4 separate regions of the Homo sapiens genome follow, and all the other regions are reported to be linked to region 3. Evidence: microRNA targets listed by miRTarBase, many of them from high-throughput screens and not tested one by one. Region 3 holds a microRNA gene; each other region holds the end of a gene's coding sequence.
What was found. Region 3 holds the annotated microRNA hsa-miR-8485 (CACACACACACACACACGUAU, at 2,411-2,431, shown strand). A microRNA usually pairs through its seed, bases 2 to 8, with sites in the 3' UTR of a target mRNA and lowers its output. Matches are read on the target gene's strand: a 7mer-m8 pairs with bases 2 to 8, a 7mer-A1 pairs with bases 2 to 7 and ends in A, and an 8mer does both.

Region 1 (5,074 bases), not on the chromosome of region 3:
ACCTGTCTAAGGTGGGGCAGCAGTTGAGGGTAGATCTAGCATGAGACCTATTTCTGGGGTTTGACTCCATGGCAGTAGGGAGCCTCGGCTGGTTCTGGAGAAAGGGGGAGCAAAAGGTTAGGAATGGCTCCTGGTGTTCCCTGCGGGACTGACCCCCAGTCTCTGCATTGCAGGCAGGACAAGCTGAAAATCCACATGCGGAAGCACACAGGGGAGCGGCCCTACCTGTGCATCCACTGCAACGCCAAGTTCGTGCACAACTACGACCTCAAGAACCACATGCGCATCCACACGGGCGTGCGGCCCTACCAGTGCGAGTTCTGCTACAAGAGCTTCACGCGCTCTGACCACCTGCACCGCCACATCAAGCGCCAGAGCTGCCGCATGGCACGGCCCCGACGCGGCCGCAAGCCTGCTGCGTGGAGGGCCGCCAGCCTGCTCTTCGGGCCCGGCGGCCCGGCCCCCGACAAGGCGGCCTTCGTGATGCCCCCTGCGCTGGGCGAGGTGGGCGGCCACCTGGGCGGCGCAGCTGTGTGCCTCCCGGGCCCCAGCCCCGCCAAGCACTTCCTGGCAGCGCCCAAGGGCGCCCTGAGCCTGCAAGAGCTGGAGCGGCAGTTCGAGGAGACACAGATGAAGCTGTTCGGGCGCGCGCAGCTGGAGGCTGAGAGGAACGCGGGGGGCCTCCTGGCCTTCGCGCTGGCCGAGAACGTGGCGGCGGCGCGGCCCTACTTCCCGCTGCCCGACCCTTGGGCCGCCGGCCTGGCCGGCCTCCCTGGGCTCGCCGGCCTCAACCACGTGGCCTCCATGTCCGAAGCCAACAACTAGGCTGGTCCCTGTCGGCTCCAGCCCACCAGCCCTCCAGTCCTTCTCCCTCCAGGCCCACTCTACCCTACCCCATGGATCTGAACTTTTCATTTTAAAAACACAAAGGGAAAATGGGAAAATAATAATAATACTATCAGTGATGGCATTTTCCCGGGCTCCTAAAGCAGCTGCCTCCTTTTGCTGGTCTGAGACGGGCATCTTTTCCCAAAAGGCCAGGAGCCCGGGCCTCCCTCCCTGTCTCTCTGGCTCTCATATAGAAACTTGCACCGGCCCATGCCACAAAGAACTGGGTGCCCAGGGGCACTTAGGAGCTGGGTGAGTCATGAGGGGTCAGGGGGTGGTTGGCCTGGTGCCCAGCCAGCCACAGCAGGAGGAGGTAGGGGCTGGGCATGCACCTTGGTTAAGCCCCACCCCCTATGGCAAAGTCTCTGCCAACACTCCTCTGAGGGCTCATTTTCCAGTCTCCAGTGGCCCCGGGGTCTTTTTGAGAACTACCCACCTGCCACATAGAAAGAAATGCTCTGTTGGCAGGGAGGCCTCCTGGAACCAGTCAGGAACCAGGCTCTGGAAGGCCCGGGCCATTTCTTCCCTGACCTGTCCTGTGACCTTGACAGGTCAGCCCTCTGTAGCTCAGTGTCACCTGGCTATGGAAGGGGCTGGTAACTGAGGTTTCCGCCCTCCACCTCTAAACACATACACACCTATCCCCCCAGAGAATCACAGAGATGGTAGAAGCTTTGTACTCCCCAAGTCCATGGGGAAACAGTTTATCTTTCTGGACTTAGTTTTATCACATCCAGCTCTATATTAGCATATTAGCATAGGTGAGAAATATGGCCAGACTAGACAGAGATCAGGTCATCAGGGGAGCTTCCGAGCTTCAGCAAAGCCCACAGGTAGCTCTGCGAACTCAGAATGCTACCCTACCTTCCCTGCAGGCCGCTGTTCATGTCTGGACTCCTGGGGGCGCTATTTAATGTTTACCCCCATCTCCAGTGCCCCCTCCAAGGCTGTGCAGTGTCTTGGGGCTCTCAGGGCCAACATCGAAGAGATGGGGGCCACCTCTTAACACCTGGCAACAGTCTCCCCTCATCCTGATTCCTGACAACAGACAAAACACCGGTTTCTAGGGTTTATCTGTTTGTTTTTTGAGTTGAGGGTTCCTCAGGGCCTTGGCATTGCTAGTGATGGTCCCCTTTGCTGTGTGAGAACCCCCTCAACCCCTTCCTCCTCCCTCTGGGGATGAAGTGGGAGTATTTGGCTCCCCATTTTTGACAAAAGGGCTCAGTGCAGGGAGGTGGAGGCCTCTGAGGTTTGAAGGGCTCTGTGAGTTAGAGTTGTCACATGTTCTCCTGGTTCTTGAATTTGCAGCAGGTCCTGAAAAGGAAGGCTCTGCTGGCCCCGTGCCTTCCTGACCTTCTCTCTCCTTCCCTCCCCTCTCTTTTCTTGCCAAGTTTGCTTTGGTTTCTGAGCAGCCCAGAGAGGAGGAGGGTTCGTCCCCAGGGAGAGCCCAGGGCTGGAGTCCCCAATCCCTGTGCTATGGGCACAAAGAGACTTCAGCTCTTCCTGTTGCCTTGGCTTTTTCCTGAGCAAAAACACAACAAACAAAAAGGCCAGAGAAGAGCACAGACTCTGTCCCTCTCACAACTCTCCAGAAGAGACCCCCTGATTCTTCACACCACCGGATGCCACTCCAGCCAGCAGGATTGCTACACACACCCTCTGTTCTCAGAAGTCATCTGCCTGGGCAGCCGCCTCTCAGATTCCTGTCTTCGTTTCAGACACTTTTCTCTGAAGCATGCCCATGTCCACCAGCCAACGTGCCCCCGTGTTCCCCCCCATCAGCCAAGTGATTGGGGCTGAACCAGACTTTAAAAGAGAGGAAAAAAAAAAAAAAAGGAAACATGAATAAATTGGAATCCAGTGGTGTTGGGGCTTTTGTTTTTATTTTGTAAAGGTGATGACTTCTTATAAACTCAATTTTTCAGATGACTGGTTAGTTCTTTCTGTTTTTTCTTGGCTGCAGTTTGGAATTGTACATTGTAAAATATCCAAAGATGTTGAGTACTGTATGATCAAGAACTTGAAGCAAATGGGTTGTGGGGGGAGGGGTGGTTGTGTTTTTGTTTTGCTTCAATTTTTTTTTTTTTTTGATGTTTCAATTTCCCTGTCTGTCTGTGGGAGAACTTTGGAATTTTTTCTATTTATAACTCTTTTTTTATGTGATTGCTCTACGTAAAATGACACTCAACAAAGTTTGCCTTAGTGATTCAAGGGACAATCTTCCATAACTTCGGTCGCACGCCACATCCCGCCGAGAAAAACTCTCAGCTAATTTTCTGGCCTATTTATTAAACAGTATTAATTGACTTGATTAAATTATATTGAGAGTTGCACTTCTGTGAGATGTGACTTCTGAAAGTTCACAGGACAGCAACAAGCCAGTCTTAAGGTTTTTAATTGTTGGGTGTCATAAACTTAAAATAATGTCAAAGACACCTTAACAAAGAAAAAAAAAAAAACCTTTGACCCTTATTTTATACTTTAAAGGACAGTGTTTTGAGTAAAAGTGAGCTATGCTTGCTTAATGACCTGGTGAGATTGATTCCCCCTTCCAATTGCCGTTTCAGTTATCTGGGGGTGTTGCATGGTAGGGAGGGCAGAACTCAATTCTCAGTAGTCTCTTACATTCCAGCTTTGTAAGGCATGGTTGGATCTTAAGCTTTGCAGCACCTGTGGGCCTGAGTGCGAGGTGTGCGTGTGTGTGCGTGTGTTCACAAACGTGTGCAGCTACACCCCAGGATGTGTGAGCAAGGGAAGTCCTGCCAGTTCCCCAGCCTGGCATCCGGAATGGGCTCCGGCTGGCCCTGCTGCTATCTGGGTCTCCTTCCTCTCACTTCCCGGTGCTGGCATCGGCCTCCTCCTTTCTTCACCTGAGCCTCTTTCCCAAAGAACATTAGATCCTAAAAGAACCTAAGGTAAAGGAATATACTTCTGTCATTGAATGGAGTCAGCTCTACTTACAACCCACAGCCCAGACTCTTGGTAACACTGTTCTTCGAATTGCATTTCTGGAAAACCAAGGGTCAACCCAGAGCCTCTTTTCTATTTTTGATTCCTTTCTTGCTGTAGTAGGCAACGTCTATGCAGCGTTTCTTGGTACAGAGAAAAGAACAGATCCGGGTTTCCAATTTAGACTCCTCCAAGCTGTGTGTCTTCAGTCTAATCACCCCTCCACTCTGGTCTTCCCTTCCCTCACCTCTAGTAATAAAGGAAATGGAGTAATCAGAGCTTCTCGAAGTTCTCCATCTAAACACCCCTCAGCAGAGGGGGCCAGCTGATTGGCAAATTGGGGGCAGAACACTAAAGAAATAGCCCAAAGTAACCTATCTGTAGTGTAAAACTCTGAAGTCTCCTGTTTTGGCTTTGAAATTCATGCTTCTGCATTCTATTACATAACATTTGTCTTAATATAAAAACATCGTTTTGATCGACTTGCCAGTTAAGTGACTTGCCTTTTCCCCAGAATCTTCTAGTGAAGTCGAACTGTTCCTTGGCCACCCTACAGCTTTGGGAGGCCCCAGCCCATGGCTGAGGGCTCAGGGGTAAGCATAGCCCAGTGCAAGAAATGCAAGGCCAGCTGCTCGTCAAGATTCTGCTCAGCTCGGCCATTCTAGGATCATGTGGTCCTCATTCTGGGGGTCAGTGTCCACTGAGTGACATAGGTGAAGATGGAGAAGGGGAAGGGAACTGGGCCCAGTGGGCCTTGACCCCTGGGTGCTCCTGATCTCCTGTGAGTAAAATCTCCTTCTAGCCCTGGCCAGGTGGGAATTCCATGGAGCCCGGCCATGTGTGACCTGCACCCTGGGACCCCAAGGTGCTAAGGGAGGTGGGGTCCTGACAGCAAAGGAGCCTCCAGTGGAGGGAAGAGGGAGTGAAGGAAGGAGGATGAGGCCTCCGAAGACAGGCCAAAGAAACCTGTGCAGCTTACCTGGAGAAGAAGTCTTAAGGAATACATGAACAGGCCTTGGGACTTCAACAGGTGTGTTGGGGAGGGGAAACTTTCACCAAAAATTTGGCCAACCCAAGCCAATAGGAGAGAGATTGCAGGAGGCAACTGGGTGCCCAAAAAAAGGAAGAGAACTTCCTAACATCTGGAGTTGCCCTAAAGAGGAACGAGGTCCCTCGTGAAGGAGTGAGCTCTCAGTCAGCACAAGAGTTCAACACTGCCTCTCAAGAATGTTGGAGA
Region 2 (5,074 bases), not on the chromosome of region 3:
TAGCTAAGCTCAAAGGGAAGACAGAATCTTCTTGGTTCCAGAATAAGGAGGAAAATCAAAGCCACAGTGGTGGGGGCAGTGGGGACAGTGAAGTCAAGCAGCCTGTGGGAATGCAGGAATCCCCTACGATTGGCATTTTAACACCCACATGGGGGCCGGGCAAGGTGGCTCACGCCTGTAATCCCAGCACTTTGGGAGGCCGAGGCGGGTGGATCAGGAGGTCAGGAGTTCAAGACCAGCCTGGCCAACATAGAGAAACTCCCCCCGACCCGCCACCGTCTCTACTAAAAATATAAAAAATTAGCCGGGCATGGTGGCAGGCACCTGTAATCCAAGCTACTCAGGAGGCTGAGGCAGGAGAATCGCTTAAAGCCAAGAGGCAGAAGTTGCAGTGAGCCAAGATCACACCATTACACTCCAGCCTGGGCTTTAATCCCAGCACTTTGGGCTTTGGGAGGCTGAGGTGGGTGGATCACTTAAGGCCAAGAGTTCGAGACCAGCCTGACCAACATGGAGAAACCCCGTCTCTACTAAAAATACAAAAATTAGCCGGTATAGTGGCACGTGCCTACAGTCCAAGCTACTCAGGAGGCTGAGGCAGGAGAATCGCTTGAACCCAGGAGGCGGAGATTGCAGTGAGCTGAGATCGCACCTCTGCACTCCAGCCTGGGCAACAGAGCAAGACGTCATCTCAAAAAAAAAAAAAAAAATCCATCCCCAGGCCCTGGCTCACAATGTAGAAGCGAGCCGCCTGAGAATGAATGGAAAAAGCCATCCAGGCACTCAGAACCCCAAAGCTAACCAAAGTATAGGCTTGGAGTTAGCCCAAACCTCTGGTGCAGAAACCTGTTCTGAGGAACTCATAAATAAAATGGTCAGAATCTTGTGCAGCCTGTAAGACTGTGGCAGGAGCCAAAGCAAGCCGGCCCCAGAGGTTGTCAGTGGGGCCCCAGGAACCCATGAGGCTGTCACAGGCAGGAGAAACATAAAGAAGTCAAAGACACCTTCCGTGAAATCAAAGAAATCTTCCATGGGGACTTCCATTCTCATGGCTCATGGGGTCACCATGGAAGGTTTTTGTTGTTGTTTTGAGACAGAGTCTCGCTCTGCTGCCCAGGCTGGAGTGCAGTGGTGCCATCTCGGCTCACTGCAACCTCCGCCTCCCGGATTTAAGCAATTCTCCTGCCTCAGCCTCCCGAGTAGCTGTAATTACAGGCGCCTGCCACCATGCCCGGCTAATTTTTGTATTTTTAGTAGAAACGGGTTTCGCCATGTTGGCCAGGCTGGTCTCGAACTCCTGACCTCAGTTGATCCCACCTGCCTTGGCCTCCAAAAGGGCTGGGATTACAGACATAAGCCACTGTGCCCTGCCTCCATGGAAGGTTTCTTTGACTTCTTTTACATGCCATGTAAAAGTAATAGTAACTACAGCATGCCTCCGCCTTAATGGGATTTTATAGCTGAGGCAGTGGAGGGTCAGGTTAAGTTGCCTAAAGTCAGTTAGCAATTGAAGTATTTAATTTATCTGTGCCCCAATCTCCTTAGCTGTAAAATAATAATAATTTTTAGTGTACTTTCCTCATAGGACAGTGGTAAAGATAAAATGAGTCGCCACCTGGAGAACGGTACGATGCCTGGCACATCGTAGTAATGTTAATACAGATGAAAGAAGTTTTAGGGGCTGGGTGCCTGTAATCCCAGCACCCTTGGGAGGGCAAGGCAGGCAGATTGCTTGAGGCCAGGAGTTGCAGTGAGCTATGATCAAGCCACTGCACTCCAGCCTGGGTGACAGAACAAGACTCTGTCAAAAAAAAAAAAAAAAAAAAAAAGGCCAGGCGCAGTGGCTCACGCCTGCAATCCCAGCACTTTGGGAGGCTGAAGTGGGTGGATCACCTGAGGTCAGGAGTTCGACATCGGCCTGGCCAACATAGTGAAACCCCGTCTCTACTAAATATACAGAAATTAGTCGAGTGTGGTGACACATGCCTATAATCCCAGCTACTCAGGAGGCAGAGGCAGGAGAATCGCTTGAACAGGGAAGAGAGAGGTTGCAGTGAGCCGAGACAGTGCCACTGCACTCCATCCTGGGTGACAGAGCGAGACTCCGTCTCAAAAAAAAAAAAAAAAAAAAAAAAAAAAAGATGAAGTAAGTTTTACATGCTCAGAGATAAAGAAGAAATTTCTACAACAAAAACAGGGTGGGAGGTCGAGGCAGGGAGCTGTTAACTGGGGGCCAGGAGATAGAGACCAGCCTGGCCAACATGGAGAAACTCCATCTCTACTAAAAATACAAAAATTAGCCAGGTGTGGTGGCACAGGCCTGTAATCCCAGCTACTTGGGAGGCTGAGGCAGGAGAATAGCTTGAACCCAGGAGGCAGAGGTTGCAGTGAGCCAAGATGGCACCACCCACTCCAGCTTGGGTGACAGAGTGAGACCCTGTCTCAAAAAAAAAAAAAAAAAAAAAAAAAAGAAAGAAAGAAAAGAAATGGTGAAAATAATATTAATAGTATACCTACCTCATAGGGTCGTAAAGATAAAATGAATGAATATACACAAACATACATAACATGTCCATAAAATATACATAAAATATTTGAATACAATCCTGCCACATAATAAGTGCTTACTATCTTTGTGAAGTTATTGTAACGATAAAATTTGCTCATTGATATTAGTGCTTAGAACATAGTAAGGTCGGGCACTGTGGCTCACGCCTGTAATCCCAGAACTTTGGGAGGCTGAGGCAGGTGGATCACCTGAGGTCAGGAGTTTGAGACCAGCCTGGCCAGCATGGGGAAACCCTGTCTCTACTAAAAATACAAAATTATCCGGGTGTGATAGTGGGCGCCTGTAATCTCAGCACTTTGGGAGGCCAAGGTTGGTAGGATCACTGGAGCCCAGGCATTCAAGACCAGCCTGGGCAGCATGAGGCATTCAAGACCTCATCTCTACAAAAAATAAAAAATGAGCTGTGGCCGGGTGCGGTGGCTCACACCTGTAATCCCAGCACTTTGGGAGGCCGAGGCGGGTGGATCATGAGGTCAGGCGTTCGAGACCAGCCTGGCCAACATAGTGAAACCCCGTCTCTACTAAAAATGCAAAAAATTAGCTGGGCATGGTGGCGGGCACCTGTAATCCCAGCTACTTGGGAGGTTGAGGTGGGAGAAATTCTTGAGCCTGGGAGGTCGAGGCTGCAGTGAGCCATGATTGCACCACTGCACTCCAGCCTGGGCAACAAAGCGAGAGCCTGTCTCAAAAACAAAAAAAAAAAGAAGAGTATAGTAGATGCTCAATAAATAAGTACTCAGTGACAATGAATAGCATCTTCTAACTAGACTGCTAATTCCTGGGCTGTTTCTCCACTGGGCACCCAGCATGTAACTGCTGAATTAATGATAATTGGGTAGCTGGATGGTGGGAGGGGGCTGATCGTGACGGATCTGTGGGCAGCGGGCAAAAGAGGGCAGTAGGTGAAGGCTAGGCCATGGAAGGGGAAAGGCCCTTTGTTTTATTTTTATTTTTATTTTTTGTTGAGACGAAGTCTCGCTCTGTCGCCCAGGCTGAAGTGTAATGGCACCATCTCCACTCACTGCAACCTCTGCCTCCCAGGTTCAAGTGATTCTCCAACCTCAGCCTCCCAAGTAGCTGGGACTACAGGCTCGCCACCACACCCAGCTAATTTTTGTATTTTTAGTAGAGACGGGGTTTCACCAGGTTGACCAGGCTGGTCTCGAACTCCTGACCTCAAATGATCCACCTGCTTGGCCTCCTAAAGTGCTGAGATTACAAGTGTGGGCCACCGCACCGGGAAAAGGCCCTTTGTATGCAGAAGGCAGCCCTCCCTCTTCCATGGGATTCAAGACGCCTTTCCTTCCCTTCCTTTCCTTCCCTTCCCTTTCCTTCCTTTCCTTTCCTTCCCTTCCTTCCCACACAATGGCACTACTTCATAGGATTGGAAGAGCTCATTGAGTTTATTTAAGGAATACAAAGGGGACTGGAAGTGTCACTGGCATGTATACACACACACACACACACACACACTTACACACATGCACACATCCTAAGCAACATTGCTCCAGAGGTTGGCATCATCTGCTCGAGGTCTTCAGATTTCAGAGTCAGGTGTGAATCTTGGGGACTTGAGGAGATCCAGGCTATGCAGAAGAAACGGTGATGGGGAGGGGTCCAGCAGTCCTCCCCCTGCCCACCAGGCCCTAGGAACCCTGTTCCCTCTCCCTCCCTGAAAGCCAGCAGCCACTGCCATCCGTGCCTATCTCCCTCCCTCCCCGCTTTCCCTAGGGGCAGTCCCAGCTCACCTGGCCACCTGAGGATCACCTGGTGCTCCAGGTGCCCATGCGGCCCCCTCCTCCCCAGGCTGGGTCTGGCCCATCGGGATTATCCATGTTCTCATAAGAGTCTGCATCTGGATAGGACCAGGGAGGAGGAGAACATGGGTGGCACTGGAAGTAGGCTGGAAGGCAAAGTCAGCCCAGGGGACAGCAGGGGACAGCGGCAGAAGCACCCACCTTCCTCATGATTGGGTCCAGGCTGGCCCCGAATGGAGCGGAGCTGGGGGGCTGCATACAGGATTCCTCTCATATCCTCATAGGACTGGGACCCTGCTTGGGCGGGGGATGGAGAATTGGAGGCTAGGGCATGGGAAGTACAGCCTACGGTAAGGAGGAAGACTGAGGGGCAGAGGAAGGTGAGGAGCATTACCCATGCTGTGCTGGGAAGGGGTGATTTGGTTAGCATTGAGTTTGGGGCCCCAGTTAGCTGTAGGGTCAGGGTTAGATATGGGTTAGATTATGGCTAAGGAAGGGGTCAAGAACAGAACTGGGCTGGGCGTGGTGGCTCATGCCTGTAATCCCAGCACTTTGGGAAGCCAAGGCGGGCAGATCACTAGAGGCCAGGAGTTGGAGACCAGTCTGGCCAACATGGCGAAACCCTGTCTCTACTGAAAATACAAAAATTAGCCAGGTGTGGTGGCAAACGTCTATAATCCCAGCTACTCAGGAGGCTGAGGCATGAGAATCGCTTGAACCTAGGAGGCAGAGGTGGCAACTGCACTCC
Region 3 (5,074 bases):
TATGTATTAGTGTTTACTCTATTGAGAATTGACTGAGAAAACATTTATATATTTATTAATTCATTTTAAAATAGCCACCACATTGCATGTTGCATGTTAAAATAAATTGTGTACTTTTATGAAAAATAATTATATTCCAACACTAAGATAATTTTGTGAGAAGAGTGACTTATTTTACATTATTGACAATCTCTTTGATGTTTGGCTTAAGAGAGCTAGATTCTCACAACTACTTCTGCAGGCAATCTTTTGTGATAGCATATATCCTTTGGCCTCTAGACAGCACCGTTGTATATTTGTGAGATGATGAAAAAGATTTTGGCCCTTGGCCCTCCCGAAAGTCTCAGGGACTACCAAATGTCCTTGGACAACATTTGAGGACTTCTGTCTTATACTGTCAACGAATATCTACTGAGCACCTACTAAGTGCCAGCACTGCTGTACGGGTGGGAAGTACAGGACAAACAAGACCATGACCCTGCCCGCACAATGTTTACTTTCTCATGAGAGAAGGAGGATTCTAAAGTGAAACAACTAAGATGATTTCAGATAATGATAGGTGTTATGAAGAAAATTAGACTGGTATTAGGATGAACTGTAGTGTAGATGGGGTTGTGTTGTTATTTAGAGCCAGATTAACGAAATTGGCTCAAGGCAGTGACTTTAAGTGAGAGTAGCAGGAAGTGCAGCCGTGTGAAGAGCTATGGAGAGCTGTCTACTTTGGGGGAACAGCTGGTACAAAGCACCAAGGTAAATTGAAGAGTTAAAGGAACAAAAGTGCCAACCTGGAGGCAGAGAAAAGAAAGAAAATGAAACAAAGATGTGGGCAGAACCTATTTTATTTGAGGCCTTGTAGACCATGGCAACCCAGGATTTGAATTATATTCTAAATATTATTTGAGGATTTGAAGAAAAGAATGATGTAATCTAATTCACATCTTCAAAACATCACCATAGTTGAGAAGTGAAGCATGGGCTACAGAAGAGCAAGGAAGGGAGAGAGGAGACCTTTCAGGGGAGTGTCGCGTTAGGTTCGGATGAAACCACAGAGGAAGTAACAGGCAGTCATTACGTTCAAGATGAAGGTACAACTGACAAAACCAATACATTAATTTTCCTTTCAGTCTGATTAAAATCCATTTCTCTATCTGACCATTTCTCTAACTTGTCAAGTTTCACTTTGAAAGATGCTCCAGTATTTCAAGGTCTTAACACTCTTTCCAACTTTTGTCACACACAAATTTAATGAGCATCCTCTCTCTTAGACATCATTGTAGCATATTAATCATATACTGTCCTAACTTACCTTATCAGCTTGTGACAATGAGTCTTTTCTAAAAAAACTTTTCCTGTATATTCAAAATGAAGACTAATGAAGTTTATTTATACAAGCTAAAAATATAACACTCAGAATTACGTGTGCAAAATATTCCCTGTAAAGTATATTTTATTTCTCTTTTTCACTTCCCATCTGCCCCTTCCAAATACATCTTTGTCTTCTGGTTGTTGAGAGGTTGCAGGGTATTCATATTGTCTTATTGCTGGTACAGTAGGACGTTTGTGTATGACCCAGCTTTGTTTGTTAAGGTGCTTGAAGTAAGTAATATGCTCTCAATGAGACAAAAGCAACAATTTGGAAACAAAAGTGGAAATTAACAATGCCACTGGTTTCTGTTTAAAGAATTTATGTATCAGGCTTTCATTGTGAATAAACTCAGTAAGCAGCTACTCAAATGATGTGATTACATGGTCTAGGAATATACTCTTGGTCTCCAAAATGACTTCTCTATGACTCCTGGTAGTATATGAAACTTAGTAATTAACACTTTCTACCATTTAAATCAAATAAATATGTTTATCTCTGTGAAAATTCAGGTATTCTTAAGAGAGCCTCACTGATCCTCACCCGAAAATTCATGCTTTGGTTTTAATGGGTGTGCTTGCTGGTTTCTCTACAGAGAGCTGCTTTGACAGTTGCAAGATAAAAGAAGAAATAGTTGCTCAGAACCACAAAGAAAATAAATAGACATTGGAAGAAGAGGCATAAACAGTTTTCTCCGCCTGCTTCACCCCATTGCCTTGGCTTTTCTTGTCTTTCTTCTACCTTATCACGACCTTCTTTAGCAAACTATGATTTAGCTTAGAGGAGAAGCATGTTTAAAGAGTTGTAAGACAGGTTTTCTTTTCTAACTCTCCATCAGAATATTACTTACTTCTGAGACTGTTTTTCTTATTTATAAGAAAGGAGATTTATAACACTGTCAGCTATCTGTGTGAAGAATTATGTACATTTCAAATTCTCATTTTTTCATATGTATAGAACATTTTATGGTCTTCAGTTCTGTGATATACGTGTGTGTGTGTGTGTATATAGCATATGTGTATACATACACACACACACACACACACACACACACACACACACACGTATATGTACTGTCTTTTAAAATTTCCATAGTCGACTGGGTGTGGTGGCTCTTGCCTGTAATCCTAGCACTTTCGGAGGCTGAGGCGGATGGATCACCTGAGGTCAGGAGTTCAAGACCAGCCTGCCCAACATGGTGAAACCCCATCTCTGCTAAAAATACAAAAATTAGCCAAGCATGGTGGTGGGCGCCTGTAATCCCAGCTGCTTGGGAGGCTGAGACAGAAGAATCGCTTGAAGCTGGAGGGCAGAGGTTGCAGTGAGCCAAGATTGTGCCACTGCACTCCAGCCTGAGTGAAAGAGCGAAGCTCCATCTCAAAAAAAAAAAAAAAAAAATCAGAGTCACTCTGGTTAGGCTTATTTCCCTAATCCTTTGGAATATTAGTAAAACTGAGGCTCAAAAAACTAATGCACAAAGTCATATGGATAAAAAGCGATATCTAACCATTTATCTTCAACTCTTCCTACTATAGCACGTCGACATTTATTACCGTGTTCTAGATAAAAGCCTTCTTAGAACTATTAACATATTTCACATATTTTAATCTCTCAAATTTTGTTTCTCGTTTTGTACAATAATTTGTGCTCCTAGAGGAAAGCAAAGACTTAGTCTAATCTCTTTGTCAAATGGAAATAGACTAATGTTACTTACTATGAATAAGAGACTATATCTCTGTCCCTAGCAAGATGTCTCTGGCTAAGGGATTACCCATAGTTAATAGAACCCAGGATCTATGAGGCAGGGCTACCTGGAGCATATGACATAAGGTACACCACTTTATGTTATATGATGCACCTTATCTGAACTTGATAGCTTATATCCTTGAAATTATTTAGCAAAGCTTGATGCTGGGCAAGATCTTTAATTCATGTGAGTCTGATTTGACAATCTAATCCTCACATTTGTCGGTAAATAATACAATTAAAATATTCTGAAGGAATCTCAAGTACAAATACCAAAGATAAGATGCCTTCCCCCCACCGCCACCCCCTTACCCAGGTTGAAATGTTACTGATAAAATATGTTGGTAAATAGTCTCCCTACTGCACTGGTGAAATCAAAGCCACCCTTAAGCAGTGAAGATGGCTAATTTAATTTCAGTAGTTATAAATCAAAATTAAGCCTAGGAAACTGGACCCATAAATGGCTGCAGAGAATCCAGCTGTGTTTATTCTAAAGGCACTCCCAGATCAATTTGCATGGAGGTGATTTGGCTATGAGATAAGGGAACTGTCTTTCAGCCCCATCAGTTAGAACAGTCACCAGGATCTAAAGTACCCAATCAAGAGAATACCCCGCAATTAATTTTTTATAAGCCAAGGAAAGACTATTGCTAAAATGTAGAATAAAGCCTTTATTTTGTAATGATTACTTTTGTTCCAGAGAGCATTTTCTGGATTAAATATGAATATTGGGGATAAAAGGATTAACCGATTTTACCTCAAATTCAGTAAGATAAAGAATGTAACCTCCACCTACTCATAATCAAATCAATTGATTTGTTCTTTGGTAGAATTGGTTTGATTTTCTTTTCCCTACCTTGAATTTAACCAAAGGATATGATGCTTCTTCGATTCTGACTTTGTAGAGATGAACAGAGATAAATCAGTTTTCTTGAGTGTTCAACCTTGAATGGACAATCCTCAGACTTAGAAATAATTATTTCAACTAACAAATATAGAAGGTTATGGAGACACAAAGAGGGACAGATTCCAAGGAGTTTTATTATTTACATCAAATGTTTTTTATAGTATACAGCTTAGAAGTTGACTGATTTATGGTTTAATTCCAACTATTATATATTCACCCATACATTAAGAGGGAAACCGATGCAAAAAGATAAAATAACATGCCCAAACAGACAGAATATGTAAATGTAAGAGACAGTGCTAGAACCTACCTTTTCCCCTCAAATTTCTGGAATCTTTTCTTTCTAGTCTAATCCATTAATTTACAAAGTTTAATTATATTCAAGTAACAATTCATACGTTTCTATTTGGTACCCATTATTTTAAAATGCCATTAAACATCACTTGCTAAATCATACACACGTTAGTCCCTAAACCTCAAAATAAAATGCTATGGGCTGGACGTGGTAGCTCACACTTATAATCCCAGTGCTTTGGCAGGCCAAGGCAAGAGAATCCCTTGAGGCCGGGAGTTTGAGACCATCCTGGACAGCATAGGAAGACCCTATTTCTACAAAAAATAAAAACAATTAGCCGACCATGGTAGTGGATACCTATAGTTCCAGATACTCAGGAGGCTGAGGTAAAAGGGGGACATGATGCCAGGAGTTTCAGGCTGCAATAAGCTACGGTTGCACCACTGCACTTCAGCCTGGACAACAGAGTGAGATTCTGCCTCTAAAATAAACTTCAAAATTAATTAATTAATTAAATGCTATGAAGTATACTTTAGGTTGCAGACATATCTGCAATTTTGAAAATATACCAACTTTCTGAAGTTGAGTTAGTAATATAGATATTAGGTCCTAGTTACCATCTCTTTATTTTCCCTTCATATTTTCCTTTGCAGTTAGTGGTTGCAAGCTGCATTTTAATGCAGAAATATCAGAGTTCATTGATTCAACGTATTTATTTCAGTAGTGCAGTTGTGCCATTTTTGCATTTGTGGTCTCACATTTT
Region 4 (5,074 bases), not on the chromosome of region 3:
AACCATTTATAAAATGGTTGAAGGAGGCAGAGGAAGAATCTTCTGGTGGCGAAGAAGAAGATGAAGATGAGAACATTGAGGTAAACATTGGGGGAGGAGGGTATTGGATACAGTGCTGGCATGGGTGTTTGAGATTTAAAAAGGTTTGTGAGGAGTGATATAATGGCAGTTTGGGGTAATTTCAGGTTTAGAATTTAAGATGCAGTAAAATACAGCCTCTCAATAATTTGGAAAATAATAGAAAGGGTGATGGAAACTGTGTTCCTACTCCTACACATTATAGTCTATAAAAAAACTTTAAAAATGCTCTTAGACTGGAGCCTGTGTAAGAGAACTTGCAGTGTTTGCATAACAGAGCTGTTCCGTGAAGAAGAAATAGCTGCATCTAGGCAGTTTCCTCCTCTGTGACCACAATTTACATTGATTTGTTTTATAAACAGATTTATCAGCTTATGTTGAATAAAATCATTCCTCTTAACAGGTGGTGTATTCGAAGGCTGCCAGTGTACCGAAAGTTGAGACTGTAAAGTCAGACAACAAGGATGACGACATCGATATTGATGCCATTTAAAGGGATGGATGCAACCTAGCTTAACAGTATAATGCTGCAAATTTTCCTCCATTATCAGCCAGAAGTGCAACATGTATGTGCAAAAGCTAAAATGGCTTAACATCATGCTACACTTTACACTAAAAATCTATTACTGTGAGTGGTCTGTTATTAAGCCCAATGAGACATCTAGGGAGTCCATACACATCAGTGAGCAGATGTAGTTTGCTTATTTATAGCATGTTTCTTTTTGAAAAACTAGTGGTGGACACATTTGGATCACATTTATACAGTTATAAAAATAAAGGTTTGATTTTGGTCGTTCTTCAGATGTTTGGCTCTGAATGACTTAAGCTGAAGTAACTGGCTCCTTACTTTAAATGTTCTGCCATCATTTCACCTGATGAGCATTCTTGGAGCCTGCCAGATATTGTTAGGTCCTGGGGCTGCAAAGAGGTCCTCAACAGGATGTAAAGCAAACTTAATTGTAATTAATTTATTCAGCCCATTAAGAAAGTACTAAAGTTTTATCTCTGTAGTTCCTCAAATTGGCATCTGGTAATGTACATTGTGAGGTAGACTGATAATGAAATGACAGTGTAACATCTTAACCAAGAAGTAAATATGACCTCAGTGTCCTATAAATAATGTAAGAGCAGGATTTGAAACTTGGAGAGCTGTTTTCTCATTTCATGTACACTTGCCCCAAATTGTCTTTGAAGTCGTGTGCATTGCACGTTGGATGAGCCAGGGAAATTATTACATTAACAAGCATTTTGTGTGTACGTAGTAGTTACTTTGTACTGAGAGAACTTGCTTTGGGGTGCAATTAATAAACTGATTTTATTTGGGAGAAACAAGGAAGGGTGCACTTAACTAGCAACCTAAGCATGATTTTTCAGCTTTTGCCCTTAGGGTTTAAATTACAATTCCAAAATGTTAGACATACTGTATTTTTTCGTTCAGTGTGGCTTTAATTTTCCCCTCTTGCAGTTTGTTCTGTAATGCCTTTTACATTTGGACACATAGTTTATGCTTTTTAGATTTTGGTTGCTTTCTTGCCAAAATAAGTGTTAACTGTGTTTCAAACTTGATTTTCTTTCCTTTTTCTTTTTTTTTTCTTCCAGAATGTCTTATTTAAAAAGAAAGCTAAAAGCATACTTCTAAGTCAGAGCCTCTATTTTGGTGTAAGACTTGGGATATTTTTTACTTCACATTGAATATAGCCAGGCACCCAAGAAGTCTGATGGCCACCTGAGTGCAGGTGACAAGGACCTGACAGAGCCCATGCAGGGCTTTAGATTTGGACACACAAGAGTTGATAACTTCCTCATGAACTCCTTGCCTGATCTAAACTCATATTATGGGTTCTGACTGTTTGAGTAATCATCTTCAAGGTTAAACCTCTTGGCAGTTACCCTTTTCACAAAGTGCACAGTGGGAATCGAGAATCGATAGGGTTAATTTTGGAGCAGTGGCTTATACCATTCACCTCTGTTTTTTTGTGATTATTTCACAGATAATGAGACCTTAATAACAAATAGGCGTAAAAAAATTTTCACATTGAAATGATAGAAACATTTGATGTAATAAAACTTGGTTGGCTTGATATTTTAAGGAATTGAAACCTAGCAATCTTATTGGAGAGACAAGAATTGGTCTCCAGCTGCCTTTGATCAAGATTCGGGTGCAAGTGGAGCAGGAGCCATATACCTGGAGGGAATGTGCTTTGTCACACCAAAGAGGATTTTTTTTTCTTCAAACTTGTATGTTGCCTAGGTTTCAAATTCTTTGCCGCAAGGCTGATCTGCTTTCATTAACTGGAATTCTGTAGGAGATACTGGTGACCTAAGCTAAGTTGCACTCAGCATACTCAGTGTCAAGCTAATGAGGTTCTATTATAAAGGTTCTACTTTTAATCTGAGGGAAAACATGTTCAGGGCTTCTAGAACACTAAAAAATTTGGCTTAAACCAGTGTTCAGTCTGGTGCCAAACTTCGAATGGAATACAAATTCACATAATCTGAACTTTGTTCACAGGTTATCCTAATAGAGTAATTCTTCACTTTGCTCTATTGAACTGTCTTAAGGATTTGTTTAAACAGCTAAGTTACTTGATTAAAATAATGATAAAATTGTATTTTGTCTTTGCTTTAATATTAAAGTTAACAAGTTTTCATTTTATAATGAGATCAAAGCATTGGAATCTGCCCTGTTTTGTAGCCGTTGCTTTGGATTTGTGTTGGATGTATCCTGCAGTTACACTTGCCAGCCCCACTCACAAAAGTTGTTCATTTCATTGGGTCACTGGCTTTATTTGCTAGTCTTGTCTGTGAACTGAGCATCTGCCTCAGTTTTATTACTTGAAATCTTGGCAGGTGCTTAATAGGGAACATACATACAGCTATGTAACTGTGAATAATTGTATATATCTCTAGTTAAGAATGAGGGAATGGGGAGGTTTGCTTTCTAAACAAGTGCATTCTGAAATTGACTTAAAAATTTTTAGTGTGGGTCCTAAAGTTTAGAGATGGGCAAGGAGGTCTCTAATCCACCGCTTCCCGCTTGAGAAGGGAGGGGTATCAAAATTGAGCCCCAAGCTGTTTGTTCCAGTGTACCAAGCACTGACTTTATGCCTTTGGCCTGGAGATGGCAGAAGTGAAAGCTGGCCATCTGCAAAAAGCAGATAAGTGAGTTTGAACCTTTTGCATTTTGTTAGCTCAGTCAGTCCTCATCGTGGTCCTGAGGCATAGGTACTGTTGTACCAAGGTCACTTATCTAACAAAATAACCCTTCATGTATTTTAAATTTATTTGACAAGTCTGCAGACAATCCTTATCTAACCAGCTATTTTCTTAATTGCTACAGCTTGACCTACCAGTATTCCGGAGTAACCAGCAAATGCAAAGTTGACCTTGTTCCTGCATCATCTTTTTGATGGTTCAAATTTCAGCCTCCCTGACTACTACAAAGCCAGAGCAGTCTTAGTACCAGAAACAGTGTTGCACTTTCGTTGCATGTGCTGTGTGACCCCAAGGGGACAGGGAGTCACTTTGGTCATCTCTGTCCCCAGTACAGATCTTGATTCATAGTGACATTCCATAAGTGGGGTGACAGCAAATGACTTGCAGGTAGTCTCATTGTAGGTTTGTGCACCAGAGTGACCCTGTGAGCCTTTGTTAATAGGTTGGGAGCTCAGGGTGTTTATGTCCACCTGTCTGGTCTAGCCAAACAGTTTTTTTCTGGGAATCAAATTTCTGTGGTTTTTATGGCCAGAAATTTTAAGGACTTGTGTGTGCTGGGATATGAGAATAGAAGCTACAGAGTTCTTTTCTTGGGACCTAGACTGGGAGGTGCAATGTCAGGACCTCCAGGTGAATGGTAGGATCTGAGTTGACCCTGCAGTTCGGTTATGCAGTCAATTATTTCTTTTTAAGAGGAGGAGGATTCACTTGGGTGTTGGGATCAAATTTGGATTCTGTCCCAGGCCTTACTGTAAAACTAGGGGATTGCCTTTCCATATCTGCTGGGGGTGGAGACCCTTATGTGCAGCACTCAATCCCACTGGAAGCCTAATGCTGCAGTCAGAAGCAATGCCTGGCTGGGGCAGTAGGGGAAATTCCACCCAATTTTGCTATGAGCCTAAAACCTCTTTAAAAACGGTCAGTTAACTAAAAAATAAAAATCAAGTCTTTAGGAGAGTAGAAAACACAATTAACTAAAAAGCAGGGACATCTGAAAGAGACGTATTAAGTTAACATTTTTAAAAATCCAAATGAAAGTAAATGGAATAAATGTATCAGGTAAAGGACAAGTTGTAAGCTTGGATTTTTAGGTCTAGCAATACACTGTTTACAAGAGCATCACCTAAAATGTGACAAAAGATGTTGAAAGGATGAAAAAAGGTATAGTAGACATACACTAACCAAAAATGTAGCTCTTTGAATCTCAGAAAAAAGTAGATTTTAATAAAGTGTGAAAGTTGTCAATCAAAGCGGAGTCACTTGTGTTCAAGAAACAAAAAAACAACCCGAACAAATAGAGTAGGGTTTGCAGTCTTGCGATGGTGAAGGGTCTCATGCTGGTATGCCCAATAACGAAATTATCACAAAAGATTGCAAAAACCACAGCCTTGCACAAAAAGCATCACAGCCTTATGCAAAAAATACTTCAAGGACATCTACCCAGCAACAGCCTGTCCAGCTGTGGACTTGCATCGCCCTTGTTATGGATCTTTGTAGCCACAGGTGGTAATCTCAAAACAGTTATGTAATCTTCATTTATCCTTTAAAAACCATTCTCGGCCACGCGTGGTGGCTCACGCCTGTAATAACAGCACTTTGGGAGGCCGAGGAGGGTGGATCACCTGAGGTTGGGAGTTTGAGACCAGCCTGACCAATGTGGCGAAACCTCATCTCTACTAAAAATACAAAAACTTAGCCAGGTGGGGTGGTGCATGCCTGTAATCCCAGCTACTCGGCTGAGGCAGGAGAATCGCTTGAACCTGGGAGGTGGATGTTGCAG

Region 1: miRTarBase lists ZBTB7C as a target of hsa-miR-8485. The part of its 3' UTR that is shown has no 7-base or 8-base seed match.
Region 2: miRTarBase lists CD19 as a target of hsa-miR-8485. Seed matches in the 3' UTR shown: 8mer at 4,044-4,051, 7mer-m8 at 4,035-4,041, 7mer-m8 at 4,033-4,039, 7mer-m8 at 4,031-4,037, 7mer-m8 at 4,029-4,035, 7mer-m8 at 4,027-4,033 and 4 more.
Region 4: the mRNA of EIF5 is a reported target of hsa-miR-8485. Seed matches in the 3' UTR shown: 8mer at 1,328-1,335 and 7mer-m8 at 3,841-3,847.

The regions. Positions count from the first base shown.
Region 1 is chr18:48,025,011-48,030,084 of GRCh38, reverse strand. ZBTB7C (zinc finger and BTB domain containing 7C) reads left to right here. Exons shown (of 5, transcript NM_001318841.2): 5 at 174-3,413. The coding sequence ends at 825. Among named protein-coding and RNA genes, the nearest start is that of SMAD2, 97 kb to the right of the region's middle.
Region 2 is chr16:28,938,222-28,943,295 of GRCh38, reverse strand. It overlaps CD19 (CD19 molecule), which reads right to left. Exons shown (of 15, transcript NM_001770.6): 13 at 4,528-4,620; 14 at 4,318-4,424; 15 at 3,954-4,155. The coding sequence ends at 4,333. Among named protein-coding and RNA genes, the nearest start is that of CD19, 8.8 kb to the right of the region's middle.
Region 3 is chr2:50,693,529-50,698,602 of GRCh38, reverse strand. It overlaps MIR8485 (microRNA 8485), which reads left to right and starts at 2,341; the gene lies at 2,341-2,431. The region is part of intron 5 of NRXN1 (neurexin 1); the gene reads left to right.
Region 4 is chr14:103,340,482-103,345,555 of GRCh38, forward strand. It overlaps EIF5 (eukaryotic translation initiation factor 5), which reads left to right. Exons shown (of 12, transcript NM_001969.5): 11 at 1-80; 12 at 482-4,544. The coding sequence ends at 571. Among named protein-coding and RNA genes, the nearest start is that of SNORA28, 5.2 kb to the left of the region's middle.